Homo sapiens: one gene and its partners. The protein of the gene in region 3 purifies or fractionates together with the protein of the main gene of each other region. This does not show direct contact. Each region holds a gene or a part of one and is shown on either strand. Other genes may lie near its edges. The genes, in order: TRDN, ADGRG5, LRRC8A, TPST2 and TMEM169.

The links.
Region 1: the proteins of LRRC8A (region 3) and TRDN purify together in Homo sapiens (co-immunoprecipitation; one large-scale study listed by IntAct). This does not show direct contact.
Region 2: the proteins of LRRC8A (region 3) and ADGRG5 purify together in Homo sapiens (co-immunoprecipitation; one large-scale study listed by IntAct). This does not show direct contact.
Region 4: the proteins of LRRC8A (region 3) and TPST2 purify together in Homo sapiens (co-immunoprecipitation; one large-scale study listed by IntAct). This does not show direct contact.
Region 5: the proteins of LRRC8A (region 3) and TMEM169 purify together in Homo sapiens (co-immunoprecipitation; one large-scale study listed by IntAct). This does not show direct contact.

Annotation. Positions count from the first base shown.
Region 1 is NC_000006.12:123,541,402-123,547,667, forward strand, and holds part of TRDN (triadin), read right to left. Parts: intron 5,972-6,266; coding exon 5,939-5,971; intron 1-5,938. UniProt on the Homo sapiens protein: Contributes to the regulation of lumenal Ca2+ release via the sarcoplasmic reticulum calcium release channels RYR1 and RYR2, a key step in triggering skeletal and heart muscle contraction.
Region 2 is NC_000016.10:57,545,643-57,551,908, reverse strand, and holds part of ADGRG5 (adhesion G-protein coupled receptor G5 isoform 1 precursor), read right to left. Parts: intron 1-6,266. UniProt on the Homo sapiens protein: Orphan adhesion G-protein coupled receptor (aGPCR). Ligand binding causes a conformation change that triggers signaling via guanine nucleotide-binding proteins (G proteins) and modulates the activity of downstream effectors, such as adenylate cyclase.
Region 3 is NC_000009.12:128,885,008-128,891,273, forward strand, and holds part of LRRC8A (volume-regulated anion channel subunit LRRC8A), read left to right. Parts: exon of another isoform or gene 1-381; intron 382-1,007; 5' UTR 1,008-1,114; intron 1,115-6,266. UniProt on the Homo sapiens protein: Essential component of the volume-regulated anion channel (VRAC, also named VSOAC channel), an anion channel required to maintain a constant cell volume in response to extracellular or intracellular osmotic changes.
Region 4 is NC_000022.11:26,529,751-26,536,016, forward strand, and holds part of TPST2 (protein-tyrosine sulfotransferase 2), read right to left. Parts: intron 2,996-6,266; coding exon 2,945-2,995; intron 1-2,944. UniProt on the Homo sapiens protein: Catalyzes the O-sulfation of tyrosine residues within acidic motifs of polypeptides, using 3'-phosphoadenylyl sulfate (PAPS) as cosubstrate.
Region 5 is NC_000002.12:216,087,536-216,093,801, reverse strand, and holds part of TMEM169 (transmembrane protein 169), read right to left. Parts: intron 1-6,266.

The DNA of each region.
Region 1 (6,266 bases), on a different chromosome or scaffold from region 3:
GGCTCAGAGTTTACTTCTTAGCAACTACCTGGAGAAGTGACTGGATCCTAAATCTCCTTTGATCTCGCCCTCCTCAGCCTTTTTCATTTTGAGCCAACCTCCATACCTACTGTCTATTCTCTCTGGGCTTTGTCCCCCTCTCACCCCCATCACAGGTCTGCTCCATGCTTGGGAAAGACAGGTAGAAGATAAAGCTCTAAGCTCCTCATGCAGCCTGAGAGCGATATGCGATGGTGCAGTTATGGAGATGAGCTTTGATCTAGATTTATTTAGAGGAGACATCCAAAGATAAATGTATACTTAACAATGTTACTAGGGCTACCTAGTAACCAATATTCTGAGGCTATGAATTTTAACAAGTTTAGTCATCTTTCCATTCTCCTTCCTTTTTTCATGCACCGTATTTTTCAGACACTTAATGTTCAGCCTGGTGTAAACCACTGAATCTGCTGGCAAAGATGGATGCAATGAAAGCTCTGACACACACATACGTCTATCCATCTTACTCCCGATGACATGATACAACCTTCTGAATGGCCTAATCCTAAAGTCTTGAATATTTATGATGCTTAAATTTTCTGGCTCTTTCTCATTCGCTCAGACTGCAAGAGCTATTGTGGATTGTAATAAAGTAAGAAAAATACACAACGAAAGAACTGAGTTAAAATTTACCAGGCAGCTCTTTTCAACTTGCAGAGCTTTAGGGAAATTTAAACATGCGACTATAGGGGGAATTGTAATTTGTTTTGCTGTAAGTGAGGAATCTCTTCCTCTGCCATTGACATGCATCAAGTACAATCTCATAGAACATCATCCTCTATATTGGGTCTAGCTTATCCTTAAGGACAATTTCTTATTTCAAAGAGAAAGTAGTTAGCAAGAAAGGAAATTAAACATAATGTAGATTGGCTTCTGGTGTTTTCCTCTAAGGCAAGAGATAAACCTATAGCCCATAAGGCCACCATGGTCCTAAAATTAAAGATCAGTTTCTCCTGTCCAAAAAACTAAATATGCATAACTCTGAATGACTACGATTATTCTTTCTTAACTTTAAAGCTAGATGTCAGGAAAAGACATTACAAAACCTAATTCCTTGTTAGGAGCCTATTATTATCTTCTAAAATTACATATTCCAAAGGATATAAATGCTGTAATTATTATTCTTATATACAGATATATTATAGATGGAGGTTTAAGTGAGAATAAACTGTAAAAAGGAGATAGAGATAGGTGTATCTGTTAAGTTGCACTTAAAAGTGTTAATACCAGTATTTTATTAGTAAAATAAACCAGTCATAAACCAGTATTTTATCTTTGAACATAAATAGAGAAAAACACTAAGATACCTATGCTGAAAAAAACATATATTTTTTAACTTTGCTTTAAGACTTTTGGGTTTTCGCTCTCTCTCTTTCTCTCCCTCCCTTTTTCTTTCTCTCTGAGTGTGTGCATGTTTGCGTGTGTGTGTGTGTGTGTGTGTGTGTGTCTGTCTGTCTGTCACTGCGTCTGGCCCTGGTTTTAACTTTAACTTTGGGTCTTTATGAATAATTAAGGGAATTAAAATTTATATTTCTAAAAAATAGATATCATTACTATTATTCACATTTTCATATGCTTTCAGTTCAATTTATTAATAACATCATATAAAGATTTACCCTCTTCTTTATCAAATATACAATGCCCCAACTATTCTAGCTTATTTACTGCCTTATTTGATCATGTATTCATTAAATTTTTAACTGTGGTATTTGCAGGACATTTTACTAAGTAAGGTGATCTTTTACACCTTTGCAATTACGTAAGCTATAAAATAACATGTTGCATTGATCCTGATGCTAGCAATACCACATCAAAACTCCATTACTGTCATTTACTATTTTATTTAATAAATGTTCATCATTAGTCTTTGGGAATGTGGTAAGCAAATAGTACATGTTCTCTTCCACCAGCTCATTGCTTGGCTCATAGAAAACACTTGAAAAAGATTAATTGAAAAAAATACATTTGTTGATTGAGTTTAATCCCAGAAGGCATAAAACATGTCCGAATTCTGTATTAGTGATTAGCTAAGGATATACATTGTACCGTCGTGAATCTTAGACCTCTGTGCTTTGCTCTCACTCAGAAACCTAGGAGTTACCCAGAAAGCAAAATGTTTATTTTCTATTACAATCATGCTCAATTTTTTCCCTTTTATATTTCTTAGAAATTTTGCAAAACTCTGCATCCCTTCCTACAAGTTCTAAAATTTTTCATCATAAGTTGAAGGATTACAAGTGATATAATTTATAGATTATTGTAAATGTTGACATTTAAAAATAAAGTTGCCATATCCCTTTTAAAAACTGAGTTGATGGACTCCAAACACTATAATATTTTTAGATGTCATTATCAACTTAAAATATTTATCAAAAAATTATTTCTTAACATTTGGAAGGTTTTCATCTTTCTCTTTTCTCTTTGAATTCATATTTTCATTCCACCTCTCTCACGAAAATTTTACCCAAGAGCTACATTATGATTCTCTAAGGAAAAAAGTGTACATATTGAAAATTTTAAATTTCCTCCATATTCTGTGATTTCACATCCTGTAATATATTAACCTTTAGACTATAAGAATCTAAGAATCTAAAGGTTAATATATTGCAAATCTTCATAAGTTATTATTAAACCTGAAAAATGAATTTTTTTTAGAATGCCATCGAATGAATGGAGCTTTAAAATCACCTATCTGTGGATTAATGTATTTTACAGTTAGAATGAGACAGCGTTCATCAATAAATCTAACCCTATATTTTACTTTTAAAGATACAAGTATTGAGAAGCCTTATGCACATCTGTACATACACACACACACACACACACACACACACACACACACACACACACACAGTCTTATTGGGGCAATGTTACTTAATTTTTTTGTCTCCTTCCAAGTAACGTTGAATACCACAAAGAACCAACAACAGATTTATTTATATTTGAAGTGGAAATAGTACGGTTATAAACCGGGCATGCTCTCAAGCAGATCAATTTTAGGAAAACATTCAAATGACATTCAATTCCTTTAAATCTCTCTGCAGTTTTATACCCCTTAGAAAGTGAGGTGCTAACAGATCCATGATGTATACCCTGGTGTGAAAAATATTGCTTAAAAGCACACTTCCAGATGTGCAAAGTATACCACTATACACAACAAATAATTTTTTCCGAAAATGTGATTTATAACAGTATTTGGTTTTCATACTTATAATTTTTAGACAACTATGTAATAAAATATAGTATTTTCTAAAGATTCAGTGCCTTGGGGTCTCATCATGAAGTGTTTAGTAATAGAACTTAGTATTTTAAAATTTTGACAAGTTGAAAAATATGCATGAAGAATATAAAGACACTAGGTACTACATGTAATACCCTGAAGCTATATTTATATATAACAACAGATTCCACAGGCTAGCAGAATCAAATATTTCATCCATATTAATAATCTGTTTAATAATCAATACTGCAACCCTGAGATTAGTCGACTACACCATTATTCCATACCAAATTAAAAACTGCAAACTTCAACCATAAATAACAAACTGGCTGAATTTTTATTTTGTTAAGAATAGCAGTAACTCAACAAATAAAACTAAGTGTATTCAAATAAAATGTTTTAGGTAGATATAGGGCAGTTGAATAAAAAAATGCTACAGCCTGATAATTTAGGCAATAAAAAATGACTAAATATTATTGAATATATATGAATTGAGAAGGGTATTAATGAAGAGTCATTTAGATGTGTAAAAATCAAATGTTTTAAAAGACTATCATTCTACATTGCCCCCAAATTCCTTCTTAAACCAACATTTGTAAATGTAAACATGAGTAAAATAACTTATAAGACAAGAATAATTTATAGAATTTCTCCCCAATAATAATGTTAAAAGTATACTTAAAATGTAGAATATGTATTATAAATGTTTTATAAAATATTACCTACTGCTTTAAAGCTCTCATTGCCTCTATACTTCCATGAAAGAAAAGCTTACACATAAAAAATAATAATTACAATGAAATAGATCTTCTTGAATTCACTTTCAACTAAGGTTTATTATTACATAGCCTCTGTACCCAAGATAGAGCATCTGAGATTTTTACTTAAATGTCAATTTTTTTCATGTAACTGTGTGAATAATACTATTAAGAAAATATATTCAGGTGATTTAAAGTCAATTCTCCTAATTCTGAGTATGTAATCTTTAAGGACATTAGTGCACATGTGTTGAAGGACATATATCCCTTAGACTATTTTTGACTAATAAACATTTCTAACATTTTTTAAAAGTACCCTAAACAACTATTTAATAGTTTTTCTGGCAAAAATTTGATTTGCTGAATCAAGGAAATAATTTAAGAAACAATAGTAAAACAGCTTTGTATGAATTTGCAGTTTATACTAATTACTATATGAAGCTTAATTTTAAAATAATTTCAAAGAAAAATTTAAATCAAAAGAAAAGATTTTTTATTAAATAGTAAATATCAATTTATGAAAAACATGGCTTTATAATAGTCTTATGGAATTCAGTTTATAAGTATAAATGAGCAAACATTATTTATCTGTTTTCCCTTCTTCCATTTCCAATGAAAATAAACGTGCATAAGCTGTTATTTCCAGATAATGACTAATAACTCACTTAAAGCTTGACTATGTTCACTCTCTATGGGAAATCAGCTATAAATCTCTTGAAGTTTATAGACAAATCTAGAATCTCTAAACCTGGATTTGATGGCTGAAGTCTGTCTTGAGTACTTGAGTTCTCATTCTGGATTTGCAGGTGTATAAACCCTTCCTTTCTCCTCACAGAGCTTTATAAACACTTTCATTTCTGGATGCCTTTGCCATAGTTGAGTTTGACTGGCTTAGCTCTTTTTTGCTGTGTAAGTTACAAATCCAAAGTTTCTAATTTAACATACACTAAGTGGATTTTACCCCAGATAGTGTGGGGTAGTCATCATTTTCTCAGGGAAGGCTGAAACTGTAAGTTTGGATCCCATTGTTTGAATCCACAGTAGGTATTAGGAGAGAGCAACAGAAGCCAGGGTTATCTTCCTGGGTAAACCCTCAACAGCCTGCCCATGTGTAGCAGTAACTAAAACACTGCAATTGTTTTAAGTCTGGCTTGAATGTTGGCTGTTTTCTCACAACAAATGTACCTCAAGATGGTACTACCTGCTCCCCAGTGCCCCTTCCAGATGCAGTTCCTACCCCTTCCTGTCAAAATCTCTGTCTTCTGAAATTCCTGCCCCATTGCTGTCCTCCTTTGTCCTAGGTTTATCGTTCTTATCATTCAGGTTGTGACCACTTCACTCAGTCACCTTATCTATTCCTGCAAGTAATTCCTCTACAGCACATCCAGGCACATCCAGGTAACTCCACTCCATGACAGTGACACATCACACATACCAACTGGATATGCCTTTGCCTCCTAGGCTGTTATGTCCCTCACCGTCTTGTTGTCCTGGCCCATAGTCATCACCTAACATGCAAAATAATGATGGCAAAAAAAATAAAAGGAAAAGAATAAGAATAAACATTTAAAATCAATAAATCTGACCATGGTGAGAATAAATCATGGGTGTCATTTTCTGGGCCATTTCTAAGGCTACAGAATTCTCCCCTCATTCCTCAAATTCCAGCTCATATTGGTCTGTGTATAAATGAATCCATACAAATCTACTGAATAAGGCATTTAAAAAATAATCAACAGAAAAGTAGTGAGATCACCTTCATTGGAAAAGAAATTGAGTATTTTTTTTCTGACTATAAATCTTGACCTAATTATTAAACAAAACCTTTATATTAAAATAAGTAAAATATATTTGAACCATGCTGAAAACCAATATTACCATAAGAGAAAAATAATTATTATCAAAGGTGAAAACAACTAACCTTTTTTTCTCAAGGGAGGCTCATCTATTTCTCCTAGACCAAGATTAAAAGAAAAACAAAGTTAGAAAATATTTTAGCATAGAATAATATGACATCATTATTTTCCCCTTTTGTTTATTTAAAAAAATCTATTAGTTTTAACAATCATAGTCTTTACATTACTTTGCTTCCCAAATTCCAGTTTTTAAGTATAAAGTTTGTTTATATACATTTATATAAGATTGTTTCATTTTTATGAATTCAATAAAATTGTGGCAGTGATCCAAATTATACATTATAGGTTATATATCATATTAATTTCAACTCTCTATTGTTCATGTTGAACTCT
Region 2 (6,266 bases), on a different chromosome or scaffold from region 3:
CCCATGGATCAAGGAGTCATTTCGACCTTCAAGTCTTATTATTTAGGAAACAAATTTCATAAGGCTATAGCTGTCATAGATAGTGATTTCTCTGATGGATCAGGGCAAAGTAAATTGAAAATCTGGAAAAGATTCACCCTTCTAGATGCTGCAAGAACATGTGATTGTGATTCATGGGAAGAAGTCAAAATATCAACATTAACAGGAGTTTGGAAGAGGTTGATTCCATGCTTCATGGACGACTTTGAGGGGTTCAAAACTTCAGTGGGGAAAGTAATTACAGATGTGATTAGAATAGCAAGAGAACTAGAATTAGTAGTGGATCCTGAAGATGTGACTGAATTGCTGCAGTCTCATGATCAAACTTGAATGGATGGGGAGTCGCTTCTCATAGATGAACAATGAGTGGTTTTTTGAAATGGAATCTACTCCTGGTGAAGATATGGTGAACACTGTGGAAATGACAACAAAAGATTTAGAATATTAAATAAATGTAGTGGATAAAGCCCCTGCAGGGTTTGAGAGGACGGACTCCAATTTTGAATGAAGCTCTACCGTGAGTAAAATACTATCAAACAGCATCACATGCTACAGAAAAACATCTTATGAAAGGAAGAGTCAACTGATGTGGCAAACTTCACTGCTGTCTTAAGAAACAGCCAGCCACCCCAACCTTCAACCACCACCACCTTGATCAGCATCAAGGCAAGACTTTCCACCAGCAAAAAAGCGTGTGATTTGTTGAAGGCTCAGATAGATTGCTAGTACTTTTTAGCAATAAAGTGTCCTTTAACTAAGGTATGTACATTTTTAGACATAATGCTTTTGTACACTAAATAGACTACAGTATAATGTAAACATAACTTTTTTCATGTGTGAGACAGTCTCGCTCTGTTGCCCAGGCTGGAATGCAGTGGTGCGATCTCAGCTCACTGCAACCTCCGCCTCCACCTCACAGGTTCAAGTGATTCTCCTGCCTCAGCCTCCCAAGTAGATGGGATTACAGGCACACACCACCATGCTCGGCTAATTTTTGTATTTTTAGTAGAGATGGGGTTTCACCATGTTGGCCAGGATGGTCTCGATCTCCTGACCTCATGATCCGCCCGCCTCGGCCTCCCAAAGTGCTGGGATTACAGACATGAGCCACCGTGCCTGGCCGTAAGCATCACTTTTATATGCACTGGGAAACCAAACAATTTGTGTGACTCACTTTATTACCATATTTGCTTTACTGTGGTGGTCTAAAACCAAACCCACAATATCTCCAAGATATGCCTGTAAAACTCCTTGGAAAAAACAAAAAAGAAAATCCTTCTGACTTAGGTTATGCAAAGATTTCTTAGAAACAACACCAAAAACGTGATCCATGGCAACAACAACAACAAAAAACTGATAAGTTGAATTTCATCAAAATTAAAACTTCTGCTTTTTGAAAGTCATGGTTAGCAAAACGAGAAGATAAGCCACAGACTGGGAGAAAATATTTACAAACACATATCTGATGTTTTTAAAAAATTGTATCTGGACTACATAAAGAACTCTTACACAACTAATAAGAGGACAAACAACCCAATAAATATAGGAAAAGATTTGAACAATCACTATACCAATGAAGATGTATATAGATGGGCCGGGCGCGGTGGCTCATGCCTGTAATCCCAGCACTTTGGGAGGCCGAGGCGGGTGGGTCACCCAAGGTCAGGAGTTTGAAACCAGCCTGGCCAACATGGTGAAACCCCTGTCTCTACTAAAAATACAACAATTAGCCAGGTGTGGTAGCATGTGCCTGTAATCCTAGCTGCTCAAGAGTCTAAGGCAGGAGAATTGCTTCAACCCAGGAGGAGGAGGCTGCAGTGAGCTGAGATCATGCCACTGCATTTCAGCCTGGGTGACAGAGCTGGAACTACATGTTAAAAAAAAAAATGTATAGATGCAAATAAGCACATGAGAAACACTCAATATCATTAGTCATTAGAGAAATGCATATAAAAACCACAATCAGATATCACTACACACCTTCTAGAATGACTAGGATTAAAATGGTAATACAAAGTATTATGAGGATATAGAACAGCTGGAAGCCTCATTCATTTCTGGAGGGAATGTAACATGGAAGTGGAATCTAGAAAAGTCAAAACTATTGGATCAGAGAACAAATCAGTAGTTGCCAGGGAGTAGGGAAAAGATATTAACTACAAAAGGGCCTGAGACAACTTTTCAGGGGACAGCAATGTTCTATATTTTGATTGTAATATACATGTATACATGACTGTACACATCTGTCAAAATGCAAAAACTCCTCTCCAAAAGGGTGAATTTTATTGTATGTATACCTCTATAGACAAGACTTTAGAAATCCAATCAAAAAACATATTAAGAGGATGAAGAAGAGGAAATAGGGGAGGGAGGGCAAGAGAACTGATGATCCTCCTCTTAGAGAAAGGAAGTCAACAAAAACTTGCAAGGCTTCAAGAGGGAGAGCCACAAAACTCAAAATATGTGTTTGATGGTAGTGGCAGAGGAAAGTAGTTAAGAACATGAGTTCTCATTTTTCCACCATTGGATCTGCAAAGATCTGAAATATGATAGCACCCAGTGAGTCTGTAGGGACAGGCACATTCCTGCACTCTCTGTCTAAGATCTGAGCCTCATCTGCAAGGGGACGGCTTAGCAACACATTCGAACTTTACGTTCTGAATATCCTTTAAGCCAGGAAACTCATTCTTATGAATTTATCCTATGGAAAGAATAGGGCAAGCCAGGATTATACACATACAAGAATATTTAGAATAGTATTGTTAATAAAGAAAAGTTGAAAGCTATGTGAATGTCTATCAATAGAGGAATAAATAAATTACACTCCAATGCCATTCTGGAAAACAGTTCGACAGTTTCTTATAAAACTAAACATGTACCTATCATATGACCCAATAATTGCACTCTTGGGCTTTTATCCCAGAGAAATGAAACCTCGTGTTCACACAAAAACCTGTATATGAAGAGTCATAGCAGCTTTATTCATGATAGCCTCAAAGTGGGTGAAAATGGTTAAATGGTGATACCTTTACACTCTGAAATACAATTCTCAGCAGTTAAAAAAATGAATTTCTAAAAAAAAGCTACTGACACACACAACTTGGATGGATCTTAAAGGAATTATCATGAGCCAAAAAAAAAAAAAAAAAAGCCAATCTCAAAATGTTGCATGCTGTGTGATTCAATTTATTTAACAGTCTTGAAATGACAAAATGATAAAGATGGAGAACAGATTAGTGGTTGCAAAGGGTTAGGGAGGGGGAGTGTGTTTCTTTAAAGGTCTCGCACAAGGGATCCTTGTGGCGATGGAACAGTTCTGTGTCTTGATCGTGGTGTTGTTTACAGGAATCTTTTATTTTATCATGTCATAAAATTGCAAGGAAAACCATTTGGCAGTTTCTTATAAAGTTAAAATATACTTACCAAAGAACCGGCATACATAAATGAGTGAGTATAATACAGAATGAAGTCTGTGAACTATACCAAAGACAATTTCCTGGCTTTGATATTATACTATAGGCATGCAAGATGTTACTACTGGAGAATAAGTGAAGGGTATACAAAACGTTCTGTACTATTTTTTGCAACCTTCTGTGCATTTATAATTTTCTCAAAATTAAAAGTTAAAATATGCAACAGATTGTCATTTCACTATTAAGAATTATGTGTATTCTTTAAAAAAAAAAAAAAAAAGATGTGTATAGCCAGGCACCATGGTTTGCACCTGTAATCCTAAACTAAGGCAGGAGAATCGCTTGAGGCCAGGAGTTCAAGACCAGCCTAGGCAACATAGTGAGACCCTTTCTCTAAAAAATATTTTGAGGCCAGGCGTGGTGGCTCATACCTGTAATCCCAGCACGCTGGGAGGCCTAGGTGGGCAAATCACTTGAGGTCAGGAGTTCAAGACCAGCCTGGGCAACATGGAAAAACCCCATCTCTACTAAAAATATAAAAATTAGCCAGGCGTGTTGGCACACGTGTAATCCTAGCTACTCAGGAGGCTGAGGCAAGAGGACTGCTTGAGTCCAGGAGTTCAATGCTTCAGTGAGCTATGATGGCACCTCTGCACTCCAGCCAGGATGACAGAGTGAGACTCTTCTCCAAAAACAAAAAACAAAAAACAGGCTGGGCGCAGTGGCTCACGCCTGTAATCCCAGCACTCTGGGAGGCCGAGGCAGGCGCGGATCACAAGGTCAGGAGATTGAGACCATCCTGGTCAACATGATGAAACCGCGTCTCTACTAAAAATACAAAAAAATTAGCTGGGTTTGGTGGCAGGCGCCTGTAATCCCAGCTACTCAGGAGGCTGAGGCAGGAGAATCGCTTGAACCCAGTAGGCGGAGGTTGCAGTGAGCCGAGATCGCGCCACTGCACTCCAGCCTGGCCACAGAGCGAGACTCCGTCTCAAAAAAAACAAAACCAAAAACAAACAAAAAACAAAGCCATGTAAAAGAAGAGCACAGCATATCACTGAGTGGAAAGGACAGGTTGAAAATAACACACATAATCTCATTTATGAAAAATTATGTTTGTATGCATGCTGAAGCATATTGGGAGCTCTAGAAGGGTGGCCACCAAAATGTTAATAATGCTTTTTTGAGGGGAGAGGTGTTTTCAAAACTTCCTTTTATATTTTCTGTATTGTTTAAATTTTCTACAACAAACATATTACCTTCATGACAACAACAAAAAAAACACAAATATTTTAATAGGATTTTTAAATGCTCCAAATGACTATCAATATGGAAGAAATAATAGTGGCATATTGCTCATGAAAGACAGAAAGCACATTGCAAAACAACCTAATCCCATTCTTGAAAAAAAATCCATATATTTTATTACATGCAAAATCTGGACAGGCCAGGTGCAGTGGCTCACACCTGTAATCCCAGCACTTTGGGAGGCCAAGGCAGGAGGATCACTTGAGCCCAGGAGATGGAGACCACCCTGGGCAACACAGCAAGACCCCCATCTCTACAAAATATTAGCTGGGCATGGTGGCGCACACCTGTAGTCCCAGCTACTTGGGAGGCTGAGGTGGGAGGATCACTTGAGCCCGGGAGGTTGAGGCTGCAGTGAGCTATGATTGTGCCACTGCACTCCAGCCTGGGTGACAGATCAAAACCCTGTCTCAAAAACAAAAAACAGAAACCAAATAAGAAAACACTGGAGTGGGGAAGGTTTTTCTAGCTATGACTCAAAATCCAGAAGCCAAAAGAGAAAATACAGATACATTTTATTACATAAAAATTATTTAAAAAGACACTTCTACCTGGCCAAAAGAAGGCCATATGTAATGTTAAAAGACAAGTGACAAATTAGGAAAAATATTTGCATGTAATAGTTTTATATATGTACAATAGACAAGAGCTGATTTTCCCATTATGTAAAAGTTTCTAGAAATTGATAAGGAAAAGTCTAACCCAATATAAAAATGGGCAAATGGCGGGGCGTGGTAGCTCATACCTGTAATCTCAGCGCTTTGGTAGGCTGAGGCAGGAGGATCATTTGAGCTCAGGAATTCGAGACCAGCCTAAGCAACATAGCAAGATCTTGTCTCTACTAAAAATCAGAAACATTAGCTGAGCATGGTGCCATGCACCCAGTAGTTTCAGCTGCTTGGGATGCTGAGGTGAGAGGATCACGTGAGCCCAGGAGTTTGAGGCTGCAGTGAGCTATGATGGTGGCACTGCACTCCAGCTTGTGTGACAGAATGAGACCCTGTATCAAAAATAAATAAATAGAGCCAGACACGGTGGCTCACACCTGTAATCCCAGCACTTTGGGAGGCCGAGGCAGGAGGCTCACCTGAGGTCAGGAGTTCAAGACCAGCCTGGCCAACAAGGTGAAACTCTGTCTCTACTAAAAATACAAAAATTAGTCAGGCGCAGTGGAGCGTGCCTGTAATCCCAGCTACTCGGGAGGCTGAGCCAGGAGAATCGTTTGAACCCGGGAGGCAGAGGTTGCAGTTAGCAGAGATCACATCACTGCACTCCAGCCTGGGTGACAGAGCAAGACTCTGTCTCAAAAAATAAAAATAAATAAATGGTGAACTTGCACATGTGAGAAATAATATAAGCACAGCTACATTGTTTGTAAGAGCAAATAACTAGAACCAGCACAAATATCTATGAACACGGGACTAATTAAATAAACTGTAACTTATTCCTACAACATTAGAATATGCAGATGAAAAAGTGGAAGCTCTGCTCTTATTGACATGGAAA
Region 3 (6,266 bases):
CTTTGTCTACCCCCGCCCTCCTCCTTCCTGGGTAACTCCTGCTGATCCTTTGGCTCTCTCTGGTGGCTGGGCCACTCTCCCAGCTCCTGGCTCCCCGAAACCCGTGTCGTAGTGATCACAGCTTTCCCTACCCTGCCACTCCCATGCACAGTTCTGCACAGTGTCTGGCGCATATGGAGTAGATGCTCACCAGAGGCTGGTTGACTGTCGGAGATGATGGGTGGATTTGGTGTTTAAGTTGGAGTCTGGGCACTGGCTGGTCTCTGCCTGACCCAGCCACCCCACTGTGGCTCATCTCTTGCCACTTCCCCTCTCTGGCTCTGGATCTCGCCATGCCGAGCCCGCAAGCCTTCTCCAGATGCCATGTACTCTCTCCTCCAGGTAAACATGTGCTGTTCCTCCTGCCTGGAATGCTCTTTTTCCAGCTCCTACTCTTAGGAGTCAACTCAGACAACTCCTCCTCCAGAAAGCCTTCCCTGACCCCACTAGTCTGGGTCTAGTGCTTCTCCTGGCTCCCCCGCAGCAGAGCTCTGAGCTCTCAGACCGTCGCTACTGACTTGGCACCTCCTCAGTAGACCAGGTTCTGGAGGGAGGTGCTCTGTCAGAACCTCTTTTGTCTGCCAGGCGCGGTGGCTCATGCCTGTAATCCCAATACTTTGGGAGGCCGAGGCGGGCAGATCCCTGGAGGTTAGGAGTTTGAGAGCAGCCTGGCTAACATGGGGAAACGCTGTCTCTACTAAAAATACAAAAAATTAGCCAGGCTTGGTGGTGCGCACCTGAAATCCCATCTACTCGAGAGGCTGAGGCAGGAGAATCACTTGAATGCGGGAGGCGGAGGTTGCAGTGAACCGAGATTGCACCACTATACAAAAAAAACCTCTTTTGTCACCCCAGAGCCCAGCCAAGGGCCTGCTACCAAGCAGGCTCTCAGGAAGTGCTGGCGGTGTGGCAGGTAACTGCGACAGTCACACATGTGCCTGCTGACGGCAGCTCTCGCTTCCTTGTAGGGAGGCAGCGTCCATGGAGCAAAAGGAATGCCAGGATCCTGCACAGGCAGACGCGGGCCAGCCTCAGCACCGACAGCCGACGCGCAGATAGCAGAGCCATCCTTGGGGTAAGGACTGGGCCCCTCTCCTTCTCAGCCAGCTCCAGCTCCAGTCAAGTGCCCTTCCCAGCCTGGGGAGCAAAGGGTAGCATCTCCATCCCCACAGTCCTTTGCTTTTCTTGCTGTAGGTCCAGGGTAGAGTGGCAGACAGCAGAATTACTCTCTTCCTCCTTCTCCCGCTGAGTAATGTGTGCTTGCCGCACTCATTGAATGCTGAGTTGTTTCATTGCAAACCTCTGTTTTTTCTCCTTCACCCCAGATCTTATCAGTCTGGGTCTTGCTAATGCAGCCTCATGACCACATTTCCCAAAAAGCGTGGACCACGTTTCCCAAGTGTGTTCCATGAGACACCAGTTTCTTCGGTCACAGTGGTTTGATAATTCCAGGAAACAAAGACTTCTTGTTATCCTTGCTGCAGGACTTATCAGAGTCTTGAATCAGAGCCGTCATCAGGATTGAGCTGATCACGATAAGGGAGCTAGCGACTCGTGTTTCCCCACACTTATTTGATCGTGTAGACATCTTTGGGGACTGGGATTCCTTGGCCTGTGCTTTGGAAAACAGTTCCCAGAGGCAGGAGAGTCCCTTTAGAACATTTGGAGGATTAAATATGTTGACATAGAGCAGGCAGTTGGCAGAGTGCATGTCCTAGAAGGTGGTCCCGAGTCATAGCTGGTGTGTGTATAGACGGCTGTGTAATTTGCCAGACATACTCAGGTCGGTGATCTCATTTGACCATTTGAGGATGCTTAGGCAGTGGCCATTATCTCCAGTTTACAGATGTGGAAACTGAGAATCAGAGTGAGGAAGCAGCTTGCCCAGACTCATCTGTAAAGAAGGCAAGGACATGCGGCTTGAATCCAGACCCTGGAATCCTGGGCCAGGGTCTTCTGTTGTCTGCCCTGAGGCCTTCCTGCCTTTATCTCTCACCTCAGTTTTTTGTGTGAAGGAAGGCCTGAGTCTCCCAGCCTGGATTTTAAAAGAAATAGTAATTTTTTTTTTTTGTAATTACCAACATAGTTGTATATTCATTATATGGTTTTATACTGTTTGGCTATTTTTGGGGGACAGGGTCTCACTCTGTTGCCCAGGCTGGAGTGCAGTGGCACCATCATGACTCACTGCAGCCTCGATCTCCAAGGCTCCAGCGATCCTCCTGCCTCAGCCTCCCAACTAGCTGGGACTGCAGGTGTGCACTACTGTGCCCAGCTAATTTTATTTATTTATTTATTATGGAGATAGAGCCTCTCTACATTGCCCAGGCTGGTCTCGAACTCCTGGGTTCAAGAGATGCTCCTGCCTTGGCCTCCTAAAGTGCTGGGATTATGGGTGTGAGCCACCATGCCAGACCTGTTTGGATCTTTAATGTCATCTAGGAAATGAGTCTCTGCTGATTCTCATCTTCAGAGGTGTGAATGGGAAGGGGTATATTCTTCCACATCTATTGTTACCATTTGCTTATTTTTATAAAAATCTGGTCATGTTTGAGTTGCTGATTCACAGTTTGCTTTTGTTTCATATAATGATATCCCCCGGACCTCTTTTTTTTTTGAGATGGAGTCTTTGTCACCCAGGCTGGAGTGCAGTGGCACAATCTCAGCTCACTGCAAGCTCTGCCTCCCGGGTTCACTCCATTCTCCTGCCTCAGCCTCCCGAGTAGCTGGGACTACAGGCGCCCGCCACCACGCCCGGCTAATTTTTTTTGTATTTTTAGTAGAGACGGGGTTTCACCATGTTAGCCAGGATGGTCTTGATCTCCTGACCTTGTGATCCGCCGCCTTGGCCTCCCAAAGTGCTGGGATTATAGGCATGAGCCACCGCGCCCGGCTCCCCTGGACCTCTTTCCCATGCAAGAGGTAGATAGAGCTGTGTGTGGTCCTGGCAGAATGCACACCCTTGAGCCCCCCTGGCCCCTCCCCCTCACATGCTGGGAGTTTTGAGCTGTTTGGGCATTTACAGCAGCAGAGGGAGGTCGGAAGTGCCTGGTGTGTGATTGTGTCGACTCTCCTGTTTATGGGATAAGGTCAGCCAACTCCTGGCTCTGCCCCATAGGAGTTTCCTGTTGGTTTTGAGGAACTCTGTCCCCTGGAGAGAGGGGAGGCCTGAGCTGTAGTCTTTCATGCTGGGCAGCGCTGAGCAGGAAGCAGCAGGTCCTGCTTGTCAGATCATAATTCCTCCTTTTTGCCAAGGATGGCGTGGAATGAACCGCATGGGCCGGCCTGAGGGGTTTTGGCCTCCACCCACCACCTGGGTTCAGGGGACACACATGAATCAAGCTGAGACAAATTGAGTCTGAGCCATTGTTCTCCTGAGCCCAGCCCTTCCTGGGGATAGGAAGGAACAGGCAGACCCTGACTCAGTTTACCCTTGCTGTATCTGGAGGAAGTGTTGGTTGTGGTCCTTTTGGCATGCTCCTTTCAAGTTTTAGTTCTGAGAGTGGGCAGGTGAGGAGCAGGAGGAGGGCCCACCCTGCCACCTGGGTCCAAAGATGCTCTCTTTTGGGGTATAGCTGACCTCAGGAAGGGTTTGGGCAAGGAGAGCATACAGGCGTGGCAGCCTCGTTTTGCGGGGCTGCGAGAGCGTCTGGCAGGATCGCGCTGGGAGTGAGGTCTGTGCCAGAGCTCCTGACATCTCACCTGTGTTTTTCAGGCTCACTGTCCTGTCGCTTTCCCTCCCCCACGTCACTTCCTCCATTCTTCCCCAGGAGTCTCTTTTCTCTCCCATACACTGCTTGGGAGAGAGCTGCAGAGCTGGCCCCTCCACAGATGGTGCTCAGCGTCTCTGGCTTCTCCTTCCTGCAGTAGCACCTTCATAGTCCGTGGTCATTCTCAGCACCATGTCTCAGTGCTGAGCCACAGGCTGGGATGCTGCACGCATTTGCCCATCTTACCTTCGCCACAGCCTTGCGTGTGAGGTTGCTTTACCATTTTACAGACCAAGCCCCAGAGGGATGAGGTCTCTGGCCCAAAGTTATACAGTGTACATGTGGCAAAGCTAGGACTTGAACCCAGGTTGGTATGGCTTGGCAGCTGGGGCTCTTTCTACTTCACCCTCCATTACCCTCTTTTCTCAGGTTCCCAGGCTTTTGGGGGCCTTCAAAGTCACCTGGAAGCTTGTCTAAAATGCTGTTCCCCTGGGCCCACCACCACAGACCTGCAGAGTCTGCCCTGGAAGGTTGGCCCCAGGAATCTGAACTTTGAAGATGCTTCCCCAGCAGTTGTGAGGCTGGTGGGCTACAAACAATGCTGAGAAACACTGACCGGACGCCATTCTTTCAGCCTTAGTCCCAGTCGTCTACCGCAGAACTCATGCCCTTGGTGTGGAAGCAGGGCTGAGCTCCCCACAGGACTGGGACTGGACAGGTTTTTTTTTTTTTGTTTAATTAATTAATTAATTATTTTGAGATGGAGTGTTGCTCTGTCACCCAGGCTGGAGTGCAGTGGCACAATCTTGCTCACTGCAACCTCCACCTCCCAGGTTCAAGCTATTCTCCTGCCTCAGCCTCCCGAGTAGCTGGGACTACAGGTGCCCGCCACCATGCCCAGCTAATTTTTGTATTTTTAGTAGAGACGGGGTGTCACCATATTGGCCATGGCTGGTCTCGATCTCCTGACCTTGTGATCCACCCACCTTGTTCTCCAAAGTTCCAGGACTACAGCCGTGAGCCACTGCGCCTGGCCAATTTTTTTAATTTAATTTTACTTTTTTGAGATGGAATCCTGCTCTGTTGCCCAGACTGGAGTGCAATGGTGCCATCTTGGCTCATTGCAGCCTCTGCCTCCTGGGTTCAAGTGATTCTCCTGTCTCAGCCTCCCAAGTAGCTGGGATTACAGATGTGCACCACCACGCCTGGCTAATTTTTGTATTTTTAGTAGAGACGGGGTTTCACCTTGTTGGTCAGGCTGGTCTCGAACTCCTGACCTCAGGTGATCCACCCACCTCGGCCTCCCAAAGTGCTGGGATTACAGGTGTGAGCCACCGCACCTGGCCAGACAGTTGTTTTTTAGTGGCTTCATTTTGTGTGTGTGTGTGTGTGTGTGTGTGTGTGTGTGTGTGTGCTGGGAAGGCGAGGGGCTTAACCTTCCCTCCTCAAGGACGTGTGGGGCTGAGGTTTCTAGAAGGGCTTTTACTCCCAGCCACAAATGTTCCCTGCTGTCTTCCAGATGCGTTTCTGTTGCGTCTTGCGTCTTGCAGCAAGTTTGTCTACATCTAAACGTCTCTTGAGGGCTTAAAACCTCAAAATTAAATTGCTTGCTGCAATCTAAGCCTCACGCCTAGAGCAATGTTCCAGTGGAGTAAAAGTGGCTGTAAAATTCCATAGCTTTCACGTGCCACCTGGACGCCGTCAGAGTGCCACTGCCAAACCTGCGCCCTCTGACGGGCAGCATGACAAACGCACTGACCAGCAGCGGGGGCGGTGGGCGGGAATCCTGGCCCTGAAGGGACACCTCGCATCTCCCAGCTGACTCCATGAGTCAGGATCCCTGGGGGTAGCCCCCTTCCATCCCAGAGAGTCGGGTACCAGGCAGCTCACCCTCTGTCAGACCCCCCAGTCCTCCCCCTGGCTCACCTAGGGCTTGGCCAGTGCCCACTCCCCTGGGATCTCAGCAGAAGATGTGTCTGCTGCCTCTCTAGGGTACTGGTGGCCACATTTCATAACCTGTCTAAGAAGGCAGCGCTGGTATTCATAACAGGTTAAGACCTGTAAACCGTGTGTGGCCGTGACTCCATGTGCAAATATGAGCCAACAAACGTTGGCTGGACGTGGCGGTTCCCACCAGTAATCCCAGCACTTTGGGAGGCTGAGGTGGAGGATTGCTTGAGCCCAGGAGTTCCAGACCAGCCTGGGCAACATAGTGACCTGTCTCTACAAAAATAAAAAAAAAATTAGTCCAGGCACAGTGGCTCAGCACTTTGGGAGGCTGAGGCAGGTGGATCACCTGAGGTCAGGAGTTCAAGACCAGCCTGGCCAACATGGTGAAACCCCGTTTCTACTAAAAAATACAAAAATCAGCCGGGTATGGTGACATGCACCTGTAATCCCAGCTACTTGGGAGGCTGAGGCAGGAGAATCACTTGAACCCGGGAGGCGAAGGTTGCAGTGAGCCGAGATTGTGCCACTGCACTTTAGCCTGGTGACAGAGTGAGATCCCGTCTAAAA
Region 4 (6,266 bases), on a different chromosome or scaffold from region 3:
CACTCTGCCACCCAGGCCAGAGTGCAGTGGCACGAACATGTGCCACATGTGCCATACCCAGCTAAGGCTTTCTCTTTTTTGTAGGGAGATGGGGTCTCACTGTGTTGGCCTTGAATTTAAAAAAAAAAAATTAATGCGATCTGAGAGCTAGGGACCATGGCTTTTGAGCATTTCCTGGTTGTTTGGGGAGAGGTCCCACTCCCTTTGTGGGAATCAGAGATCTATCTTTTGCTGACGTCAAGAAAGTAGCCAGAATTAGTGAGCACTAATTTAGTATTTGTTTTAACCAAAAAGATGATGTAGGCAGAACAACACAGTGGGGATGAGGAGAATTATCCACAAACTGAAACTTCTCATTTTTGCACGTTGCCTTCGTTTTTGTTGTTGTTGTTGCTGCTGTTGTTTTTAAGAGACAGGGGCTCCAGCGATCCTCCCACCTCAGCCTCCTGAGAACCTGGGACTGCAGGCATGCCACTGCACCCAACTCCTGCGTGTTGCCTTTTTTTGTCCACCTGAATATGCATTTTTACATTAGTTGCAATTGTATAGTATGAGCTGCTTTGTTTTGCTTTCTTACTATTTTTTCATCATTTGGGTTTCACTAGCACCATTTTGGATGGCTACAGATATTCTGTGGAGTGCATGTACCACCGTTTACTGACTGCTTACCTAAGAATGGTTCCAATTTTTGCAGTATTTTAAATGACATCACATCCTGATTCTGCCTCTCTTCTGTTGGGTACTGAAGCTCTACTGAATCATTCCCTTAGAATTCACTTCTAAAAAATGGAATCATGCTTGAACCCGGGAGGTGGAGGTTGCAGTGGGCTGAGATGGCGCCACTGCACTCCAGCCTGGGTGACACAGTGAAACCCCATCTCAAAAAAAAAAAGGAATCAGCAGGAGCAGGTGGAAGGGTTCAGATCTTTTGAAGACTCTTGAACAACAAGGCTAAAAGTGTTTTACAAAAGGGTTGGGGTCAGGAGCAGTGGCTCACGCCTGTAATCCCAGCATTTTGGGAGGCCGAGGTGGGTGGATCACTTGAGGTCAGGAGTTCGAGACCAGCCTGGCCAACATGGCGAAACCCCTTTCTACTAAAAATACAAAAATTAGCCAGGCGTGGTGGCCGGTGCCTGTAATCCCAGCTACTTGAGAGGCTGAGGCAGGAGAATTGCTTGAACCTGGGAGGCAGAAGCCGCAGTGAGCCGAGATCACCGCATTGCACTCCAGCCTGGGCAACAAGAGGAAAACTCCATCTCAAAAACAAAAACAAAAACAAAAACAAAAGGGTTGGGCCAGTTTATACTTCCTGCCGTGTATGACATATGCAAGATGTCTAGCTGACCTGGGACTGGTTTTTGTTGCTTTTAGGAACAAAATATGAAGGAATGGCATACCCCCACGCTCAGGAGGGCTGCCCTGCAGATAAGTTTTGTCAAGCCTCTATTTCCAACCCTCATCTCCCTACTGTCCTCCACTGTGCACATAATGTCATTCTGGATGTTGTAAAAACTGGAAATGGTCTTGAAGAAGCTGTTTAGTAAATGGTAGCACATGCATTCCACAGAACACTACGTAGCCATCCAAAATGGTGCCGGTGAAACTCAAAAGATAGGAAAATATTAAGAAAGCAAAACAAGGCAGTTTGAACATGAAAATTGCAATGAACATTCCTGTAAATCACATTGGGGTAGAAACAAAGAAAAATATAATTGCAACGAATGCAAAAGTGCATACGCACTCCAGAGGTTTCGGCCACACTCCCCACTTTCAGGCGTTTACAGTTCCCTCTGCCGGGAAGCCTTTTCTATCCAGATCTTTGTGTGGCAGACCTAGTTTTAATCCTTCAGATATTGGCTTATGGGTGCTTTCCAATATCAGTGACCAATTCTCTGATTATCTGGATACCAACTGGGTGTTCAACAATTCAGTTCAGTTCTGACACCAGCTCCCAGACTTACTTAGCATCAGCTGCCACAGATTAAGGGCCCAGTTCCACGACTGCCCCACTTTAGATGCCAGCTGCAATGGGGTGCGCAGGCTATCCACACTTCTTCCCAGCCAACTTCAAATCTGGAGGTTCCCACAACCCCCACTCTGGTTTGATAATTCACTAGAACAGCTCACAAGACACTAGGGAAAACACTTTACTAACTGCTACCTGTTTATTATAAATAATACAACTCAAGCTTGGACAACATGCCAAAACCCTGTCTCTACAAAAAACACAAAAATTAGCCGGGCATGATGGTGTGTGTCTGTAGTCTCAGCTTCTTGAGGGGCTGAGGTGAGAGGATTGCTTGAGCCCAGGAGATTGAGGCTGCAGTGAGCCATGATCACACCACTGCACTCCAGTCTCAACAAGAAAGAAAGCCCAAGAAAAAGTCCCCACGAAGTCCCTCCAACTGCATTCAAGCCGGAAGACGAAGTGAGAGGCTGCTTCCTGGCAGAAGGGCCACTGAGATGTGGCCCCAGCTGGATCAGTGCTTAGAGACCCTCTGGTCCAGCACGCATCCCCACAGCCCTTTATTTTTTATTTTTATTTTTTGAGATGGAGTCTCGCTCTGTCGCTCGGGCTACAGTGCAACGGCGTGATCTCAGCTCACTGCGACCTCTGCCTCCCAGGGTCAAGCGATTCTCCTGCCTCAGCCTCCCAAGTAGCTGGGATTACAGGTGTGTGCCACTACGCCCGGATAATTTTTGTATTTTTAGTAGAGACGGGGTTTCACCGTTTTGGTCAGGCTGGTCTTGAACTCCTGACCTCGTGATCTGCCTGCCTTGGCCTCCCAAAGTGCTGGGATTACAGGCAGCCAGCTCACATCCCCCTTTTTATAATGGGAAAACCATCAACCAGAGTGGAGAAGTGACACATCTAAGGGCATACAGCCAGATGGTGGTATAGCTGAGAAAGACAGAATTCGGAATTCCCCTTGGGGTTTCTAACCTGAAAATATCCTTTCAGATTGGCTGGTGTTTTATAGTCCCCTTTCAAGACCTAAGGAAGAGAAAAAGAAATATCACTATTATGAAAATGGCCAAAAAATAAAATTTAGTCATTCCCAACACATCCAGTCATCCACCCATCCACCTCGCCACCCACCCATCCCTCCATCCAACAAACATTGCTTAAGCTCCTCTTCTTCTAGGCATTATTCTAAGCATTGTGTCTGGTTGACATGATGTTAACCAGATAATGGAAATTCCTGTTCCCCTGGAGCTACCATTCTAGAGGGGGCACCAGATAACATACAAGAAAAATAAACACAGATAAACAAGGACATAGCAAACCATGGGAACTGTTGTGAAAAAAGTACAGTAAAGAGGTGGGATTAGGAGTAACCAGGGGGCTTCTTTTGAGTGGGTGGTCAAGAGGGGACTCTTGGGCCAGGCGCAGTGACTCATGCCTGTAATCTCAGCACTTCTGGAGGCCAAGGCAGGAGGATCACTTGAGTCCAGCAGTTTGAGATCAGCCTGGGAAACACACTGAAACCCCATTTCTAAAAAATTAAAAATTAGCTGGGCATGGTGGCATGCACTTATCGTCCCAGCTGCTCTGGAGCTACTCCAGCCTCAGCTGGAGGATTGGTTGAGCCCGGGAGGTTGAGGCTGCAGTGAAGTATGATCACATCACTCCACTCTAGCCTGAGTGACAGAGCGAGACCCTGTCTCTAAGAAAGTGAATAAATAAAAATAAAAAGGGCCTCTTGAAATAGATAACCTTTGAGCTGAGACCCAAACGACAAGGAAAAATAGGTAGGCTAAGCTCAGAAGAAAAAGCACTCCAGGCAGAGGCAACAGAGCAAAGGCCCTGAAGTTAGAACCACAACATTTCAGGCCTTTCCGCTAGTAGTCACATTTTAAAATAAAATGAAACAAGGGAGATTAATTCTAACAATATCTTTTATTTAACCTGATATAGCTAATTTTTTTTTTTTTCTATTGAGACATGGTCTCACTCCCATAGCCCAAGCTGGAGTGCAGTGGTGCGATCACGGCTCACTGCAGCCTCCACTTCCCAGCCTCAGGTGATTCTCCCACCTCAGCCTTCTGAGTAGCTGGGACTATAGGCACGTGCCACCATGCCTGGCTAATATTCAATATTTTTAGTAGAGATGAGGTTTCACCATGTTACCCAGGCTGGTCTCAAACTCCTAGGCTAAGCAGTCTGCCTGCCTTGGCCTCCAAAAGTGCTAGGATTATAGACATGAGCCATCATGTCCAGCCTATGTAAAATATTAACATTTCAATATGTAATTTATATAAAAGTGACTAATAAGAAACGTTACATACTTTTTTGTCCTAAGCCTTCAAAATCTAGTGTGTATTTTACACCTAACAGGACCTCTCACTTTGGACTAGCCTCCTGTTACAGAATCAGGGGCCACACATGGCTAGTGGCTACCGTATGGGACACTGCAGGCAGAGACGATTTCATCAGCATAGATGTCCTTTTAGCCACTGTGTTTACTGAGCCCCAGGATCCATTATTGGAACACACAGGGTCCACAGCACTCACAGAAGCACACAGGCATGCATGCAAACTCACAGGGCTTAGTGAGAGGACTTTTCTTTGCAGTAACAGCCAAGCTATGGCAAAAACTAAACCAGGGATCTAGCACTTGCCAAGACTTGTTGACCGCCCCAGGGAAGAAATCTCTTTGGATGAAAATGAGAGACAGCTTCCATTTTAAATAAACAAACACAAAAAGCTCCAAAGAGTTGATGTTAACCACCAGTGCTCATGAAAATTATTTGTGTTTTATAAAATACATAAAGTCAGGCTTTACTCCAGGAACGTCCGACCCATAGCCTGGGGCAAGCCAGGGGCAGCGAGCCACCTTTTAAGGAGACCCCAGAGGAGCCACTGCTGGGCCCTTGGCTGAGAACAGTGAAGTAAGCAACATCCAGCCCACTACTGCAGTGTCCCCAGCCGGCCCTCGCCTCTGCTTCTGAGAAGCACCTGGGGCTGGATTGTGAGATCACTACCATCTTTTTAATCCAGTTAATTAATTTTTTATTTTGATAATACATGTACAACCCACAGGCAGATAAAAGTATGTAAAACACATAAGTAGGGTTTAAAGATTACTATTATTAAAGAATAATAAAATAAAAATTAATAATATTTATAATAAAAATAACAAACCACATCTGGGTTGCAGCCATTCACCTGTCAATGTCGGCTGGTATGTACGTTGAATCTCTGAGTATTTCCATAAATAGATGTCTGCAAAATCAACTAATGTCAAGAGGAAGAGGAACTCACGAGACCCACAGACAAAGCTTACACTTCAATTACAAGGGCACAGCCCCCAAAGCTCAGCGTTAGTAAATTCTCTTTGTTAAAGAGAGATCAGTGAGTGCTAGAGAGGTGGTAATGACTTTTTAGCACCAAATGGAAACTTTCTTCTTGAGCCAACTGAAGAGTTACGGAACTAAGAGACGATTAACTTTTTTCCGTTGTGATTCAATACGATAACTGTTTATTTCCTAAAATCAGCACACGCTCAGAAATGCTGAGCTTAGCTTAAATTAAAGACTCTGGGTCTTAATGAAGTAAGGGCTGTGAAAGCTCTTCCTCAGGCCTGGGTCCCATTTTCAAATATTTGCCTATAAGGAAGTTAGAACACAGCACTTAAAGTAAACTAGAAGCTGTAATGGAAACGTATAAATAAGGCCATCAACTTGTTAACTGTTCTTTTACCCAGTGGGTGTTAGCCTACTTTAACACTTCAAAAGCATTTTGTCAGTCACTGGAGGCTCACACCTGTAATCTCAGCACTTTGGGAAGAGTGAAGCAGGGGCATCCCTTACGGCCAGGAGTTCTAGACCAGCCTGGGCAACGTAGCGAGACCCCGCCTTTATAAAAATTAAAATTAGCTGTGCATGGTGGCGTGCACCTGCAGTCCTAGCTACTCAGGAGCCTGGGGTGAGAGGATGGCTTAAGCCGAGAAGTATCAGGCTGCAGTAGCTATGACTGCACCAGTGCACCCAGCTTGGGCAACAGAGCAAGACCATGCCTCAAACAAAACAGTACAAAACAAAAAAGTCATTTCCCTTCACCATCTTAACTAAGGAGAATTTTAAGCATAATTTAAACAGCCCTAAACTCACATTTGTCTGAGAAATCCACATTAAACCTTATAAGACAAGAAAGGGACCAATAGTTTATTTATTTATACCCCCTCTCAACAAAGACTTGAGGTGCCTTACAAACAGATAAACAAATAGCCAGGGAAATAGGGGTAAAAATGTAAATAAAATTA
Region 5 (6,266 bases), on a different chromosome or scaffold from region 3:
CTCATTTCAATGTTTCTAAAATTTAGGTAAATTTTAAGCTCAATGGAATGGCTTTTTCTCCCCCTCCAGGCAGGGGAGTTCTCCTCTGCTGCCCTCTCACCCAGTATTTCCTCTAGCCTCTGTTGATTTTCTTTGTCTTTCCATTGGATTGGCAGATGTTGGATCTAAATTAACTTTATAACTGGGCACTTAACCCAATGCCTGGAATAAATCAGGCACCCAGCGACACAATTGAGAATCTTAGTGGTAGGATCCACAGGATGAAATGGGCAGGTTTCACTACGTCCTCACTGCCTGACTTTGTCTAGGGGGTGTACTAGGGGCAGAATGAAAGCCATTATCTTTAAATTCTTATCCATGGAGCTTTCTGGACCAGGAGATTCATTTGGCTGAGGTGTCTAAAAGTACAAGGATGTACACAGGAAGAAGCAGGGGAGAGAGCCCTCCCAAGGTAAATAGCTCCAGAGGACAATTAATCCAACCATTAGAATGCTGAGCAGGCCTTGGGCATTGATGAGCTTGACCAGGGCTCTTCTACCAAAGTGGCTTCTACACAGAGGACAGTGGACCTCTACCCAGAGGAAACTGAATGGGGAGGCTGAATGCAATCCACCCCCAGGTGAAGATTTTATATGTATACACACACACACACACACACACACACACACACACACACTTCATTATTACGTTAAGTTCCAGGATATACATATATATGTATATCTATATATGTACTTATACATATGTATATTTATATACAAATGTGTATATACATACATTTGTAATTCTACTCTCTAAGTGTCTATGTTTAATACAAAAATGTTTTCCCTGGTCCAAGTCCTCTTATACACTGACACTCAGAAAGCTGCATCATGGTAATTCTATGGTAGGAATGACCTCTGAACAAACCACTTTGTACTTACTTGAAGGTGCAATGATCACAGCTTGGGAGGCCACCCTAATCCACCGTGTTTTCCTACTTAGATCATCTGTTTCTCTCTGTTGTTTTCTGAGGCAGCTTGTGAAGGGCCTTCTTTGGCCCTTCTATACAGCATGAATTTTCAAACTAGGGGTTGAGACCCCGAGGAGATTAAAGGACCAGAGCTTCAGAGCTGGGAGAAGGTTTATGTTCTGTACTCCTTACTCCTTCTTTAAAGATGTACCAAGATGTTCAGAAGGGAGACAGAAATGTTAAAGAGTACACGTGAGAAGGCAAGTTGCAAATCTCATACTTCTTGTTCCCTTTTCCTCTCTCTTTGTTGAGGGGGTGGTGCTCTAGGAAGATGTGGCAGGGCAAAGTGAACACATGCATGGAGATGATGACCCTTATTAATGGGCCTTATAAACATTAAAAAGTGGCCAAGTGCGGTGGCTCATGCCTGTAATCCCAGCACTTTGGGAGATCAAGGCGGGCGAATCACTCAAAAAAAGAATTAATTTAATTAAAAAAAAACATAAAAAGGTGTAGTGTTCGACACTCTTGATTTGGTTGGGCACAATGGGAGAGGCCAATGTTAGATAACAGGAAGAGCTTCCTGAGCCCAGGGACAGACTAGTACAGAAAATAGTAGCTAAGAGAAGCTTTGGAGTCTCTTGGGGATATAAAAGATAAACATGGTCATCTTGTTGGCTGATGGAGGAGAGGGACAATCCTATCAGAGGCAAAAAGAGAGATGACTTTTGAACATCCCATTAAAACCTTAGACAAGAAATATGAAATGTAAAGGGTGAGCTCCTGGCTATTCACCTTAGGGGGGCTATTTTTGCTTCAGGCACAGCTCATTTTAGAAAGGTGCCCAGCCAATGTCTACTTACAGTAGTCACAGGACAGAGACACTGTCCTTGATTTACCTTGAAACATGATTTCCTCATCTCCCTACAATTAGAACACTATCCTTTGAGACTACAAAACATTCCCACAAACTTAGGAAAAGATGGGTTATTTTGTAGTCATGGTAAGTAGACAATAGAACCAGTTTTAAACCTGTTCAATTGATCAACAACAATCTCCCTCAGTGTCTTAGTGCATTTGGGCTGCCATAAGAAAATACCATAGACTAGGTAGCTTATAAACAACAAGAATTTATTTTGTACAGTTCTGGGAGCAAAAAATCCAAGATCAAGTTTAGGGGTTTGGTAGGACTCACTTTCTGGTTCATAGATGGTGCCTTCTCACTGTGTTTTCACGTGGCTGAAGGAGCTGACTAGCTCTCTGGGTCTCTCTCTTTTTTTTTTTTTTTTTTTTTTTGAGATGGAGTCTCACTCTGTCGCATAGGCTGGAGTGCAGTGGCGCAATCTTGGCTCACTGCAACCTCTGCCTCCCAAGTTCAAGCAATTCTCCTGCCTCAGCCTCCCAATTAGCTGGGACTACAGGCACACGCCACCATGCCCAGCTAATTTTTGTATTTTTAGTAGAGATGGGGTTTCGCCATATTGGCCAGGCTGCTCTCAAACTCATGATCCGCCCGCCTTGGCCTTCCAAAGTGCTGGGATTACAGGTGTGAGCCACTGAGCCTAGCCTCTGGGTCTCTTTTATGGGGGCACTAATCCCATTCCTGAGGACTCCACCGTCATGACATAAAGCCTCACCTAATGCCATCACTTTGGGGGCTGAAATTTCAACATATGGATTTGGGGGGAAAACAAACCATACCATAACACTCAGCAAACATGTTTTTGGAAATTAACCCATCCAGTCAGTCCTTTGTTTCTGAAAGTCAATCAGGTGAGTGGCTCTGTCCCTGTTTGGCTGACTTTCACACTAGTGTGAGTTGACTTTTGGCCAATCAGGGTCTGGCACTCTGATGATGGCTTTCAAAAATGTATTCACTTAGGCAGTTGTTGATTGAACATGTTTAAAACTAGTTCTGGTGGCTACTTGTTATCAAGGCTACTGTAAAAACAGTGTTTTCCTAAATTTGGGGATCCTTTTTACTGTTAGTTTCCTGCAAGTCTGGAATATATCAGATGTCACAGTACAAGAATATGAATTATCTGTTGTGATGTAACAAATTACCCAAGAAGTAAAGGTTTAAAACAATAAAAAAGTTATTATCTCACACAATTATGTGCGTCAATAAACTGGGAGTGCCTTAGCTGGGTGGTGAGTAGTCTTCTCTACCTGCTTCCTGCCTATAGAATTTGGAGGTCCAAAAGTGTTTTTTTGTTTTTATGGTTTCTGAACCTTTTAGTATTCTGTGAATAGAATTTTCTCAACATTTCTGTGGGATTCCTATAAATAGTTTCTCTGAGTCAGAAGTGTGAGAGTGGCTTAGCTGGTTTTGTTTCAAGATCTCTAAAGATGTCAGGGCTGCAGTCATCTGAAGGCTTGAATGAGGCTAGATCTGCTTCCAAGATGGTTCACTCATGTAATGCTGACTCAGTTTCTCTCCACATGGGCCTCTCCATGGGCCATCTGAGTGTCCTTACAACAGTGGCTGGCCTTCCCCAGCATGAGTGGTCTGAAAACAGGTATTTTCTTTGACCACCCCAACTTGACTCTTGATCCCCATCTCTTCCTCATCTTTGATTTCCTCCTTCTCCAATAGCTCCAACTTCCTTCTACTGGCTCTTTCCCCTTTGCCTTCAAACTCAGAGTTCCTTATCTAGAAAAAAATAACTTTACCTTGCCACTTTACTCTCTCTGATAATCTCATTTTTCTCCAACCAAGCTTTTCTATCAAATAGTTTATAGCCACTCATATCCAGTTCATCCTGCAATCTTCTGCCCTTTCTCCCCACTCCCAACCTCTGTACACACACAGACACACACACATGCACGCACGCACACGCGCAAGTCACTTGCAAAGATGAGAAATAGGCCAGGAAATTAGCATTTATTGAGCCTTATGTGTCAGGCTGTAAGGTAAACTCTTTATAGATGTTCTCTTACTTGCATCTCTCAACAAGCTTGACAGGTAGGTCTTATTTTCCACACTTGACCTATTAGGTTCAATGCGTTAAATATAGCAGTGAGAGAACTTGGGTTTAATTCTATACTTGCATAACTCTAAAGTCCAGGATTTCCCCACCAAGATTTAGAAGAAGTCAAGGCCAGGTGTGGTGGCTCATGCCCGTAATCCCAGCATTTTGGAAGGGCAAGATGGGCGGATCACTTGAGGTCAGGAATTCAAGACCAGCCTGGCCAACATGGTGAAACCCTGTCTCTACTAAAAATACAAGTAGCTTGGCGTGGTTGTGCACGCCTGTAATCCCAGCTACTCAGGAGGCTGAGGCAGGAGAATCGCTTGAACCTGGGAGGTGGAGGTTGCAGTGAGCTGAGATCGTGCCACTGCATCCAGTCTGGGCGAGAGAGTGAGACTCTGTCTCAAAAATAAAATCAGTAAAATAAAATAAAATGAAAATTAAAAATAGAAGTAGTCAAGTGGTAGTAGCTGCAGTGAACAGCTGATGGTTTTTGGTTTTTTGGTTCTGTTGTTTGCTGTCCAAAACCCTATTTCTCCTTCATTTGATGACAGATCCACTCATTTTGGTGAGAAACAGTCTTGAAAGTCCCTGATGTGATCACAGTGACCACTTCACCATTCTTATTCTCCTTGTCACACCAAAGCTGTTGATTCCACTAATTCCCAAATCTTTCTTGAACCTTCCCTCACCTCCTTTAACTTTCTACTCTCATTCTCTTTTACCTCTCAAACCTTCCTTCTGTTTCTTTTGCTCCCTTATCTGCTTTCTCCAACCCATAATTGCCAGTGTTTTCTAGGCCCGATTCTTAATTCATTGTCCTCTATTCTCAACAGCACACTCTGTTCCTCTTGTTAAAATATACAGCCTTCCTGCACACAGCTGTAGGACCACTTCTATGCCAAGAACGCCCAAATGTAGATCTCAAGATTGTATCTCCAATAGCCTGGCGAATATTTTCTAATTGAATTATTTAGCAAAGCATGTTCAAACCAAACTCATCTTTATTTACAGCAGAGAACCTCTCAGTGTTACCGAGAAAAAAGGAGAAGGGGGAAAGGAAAGGAGAAAGGGATAAAGAAGGAAACACCACAACATTTATGGAATTTACCGATTGTGTAATTTGGTAGGTTCTGTGTTGATTATACAGTACATGCATTATCTCACTGAATTACACATTCAAAAAATATTTACGTATTCATTTATTTTTAGAGATGGGGTCTTTCTATGTTGCCCAGGCTTGACTTGAACTCCTAGGCTCAAGCAATCCTCTCACCTCAGCCTCCTGAGTAGCTGGGACTACAGTCATGTGCAACTGTGCCCAGCTTCAGTAAATATTTATTAAGCAACACTATGTGCTATATATTGCATAGTTGTTCTAGGTACAACAATTTTTGTCTGTTTGTTTGTTTGTTTTGAGACGGAGTCTCGCTCTGTCGCCCAAGCTGGAGTGTAGTGGCGTGATCTCAGCCCACTGCAAGCTCCGCCTCCCGGGTTCACGCCATTCTCCTGCCTCAGCCTCTTGAGTAGCTGGGACTACAGGCGCCCACCACCACGCCCGGCTAATTTTTTGTATTTCTTTTTTAGTAGAGACGGGGTTTCACCGTGTTAGCCAGGATGGTCTCGATCTCCTGACCTTGTGATCTGCCCGCCTCGGTCTCCCAAAGTGCTGGGATTACAGGCGTGAGCCACTGCACCCGGCCTGTTTGTTTTTTTTTTTTTTGAGACAGAGTCTCGCTTGGTCACCCAGGCTGGAGTGCAGTTGTGCAATGTCAGCTCACTGCAACCTCAGCCTCCAGGTTCAAGCGATTTTCGTGCCTCTGCCTCCTGAGTAGCTGGGACCACAGGCATACACCACCATGTGCAATTAATTTTTGTACTTTTAGTACAGACAGGGTTTCACCATGTTGGCCAGGCTAGTCTCCAACTCCTGACCTCAAGTGATCCATCTGCCTCGGCCTCCCAAAGTGCTGGGATTACAGGTGTGAGCCACCATACCAGCCTAGGTACAACAATTTTATGAAGCAAGTATTATTTTGCAGAAGAGGACACTTGGACTGAATAATAGTAACAACAGAAACTTATTGGATGTTTATTGTGTGCCAAGTGCTGCTCTAAGTACTTTACAATAATCGTATTGTTCAATATTCACAGCAAACCAGTGAAGTAGGTACCTTTATTATTCCCATTTAGAGGAGAAATTTGCTCAAGCTTACATAGCTAGTATAGTGGTGGGACTGGAACTGACACCCAGGTTTGCTAATTTCAAAGCCCATGTTATTTTCATTGTGCCATACTACCCGCCAACATTTATGCAAAGATCTATAAACTTCTAGAATGTTCTT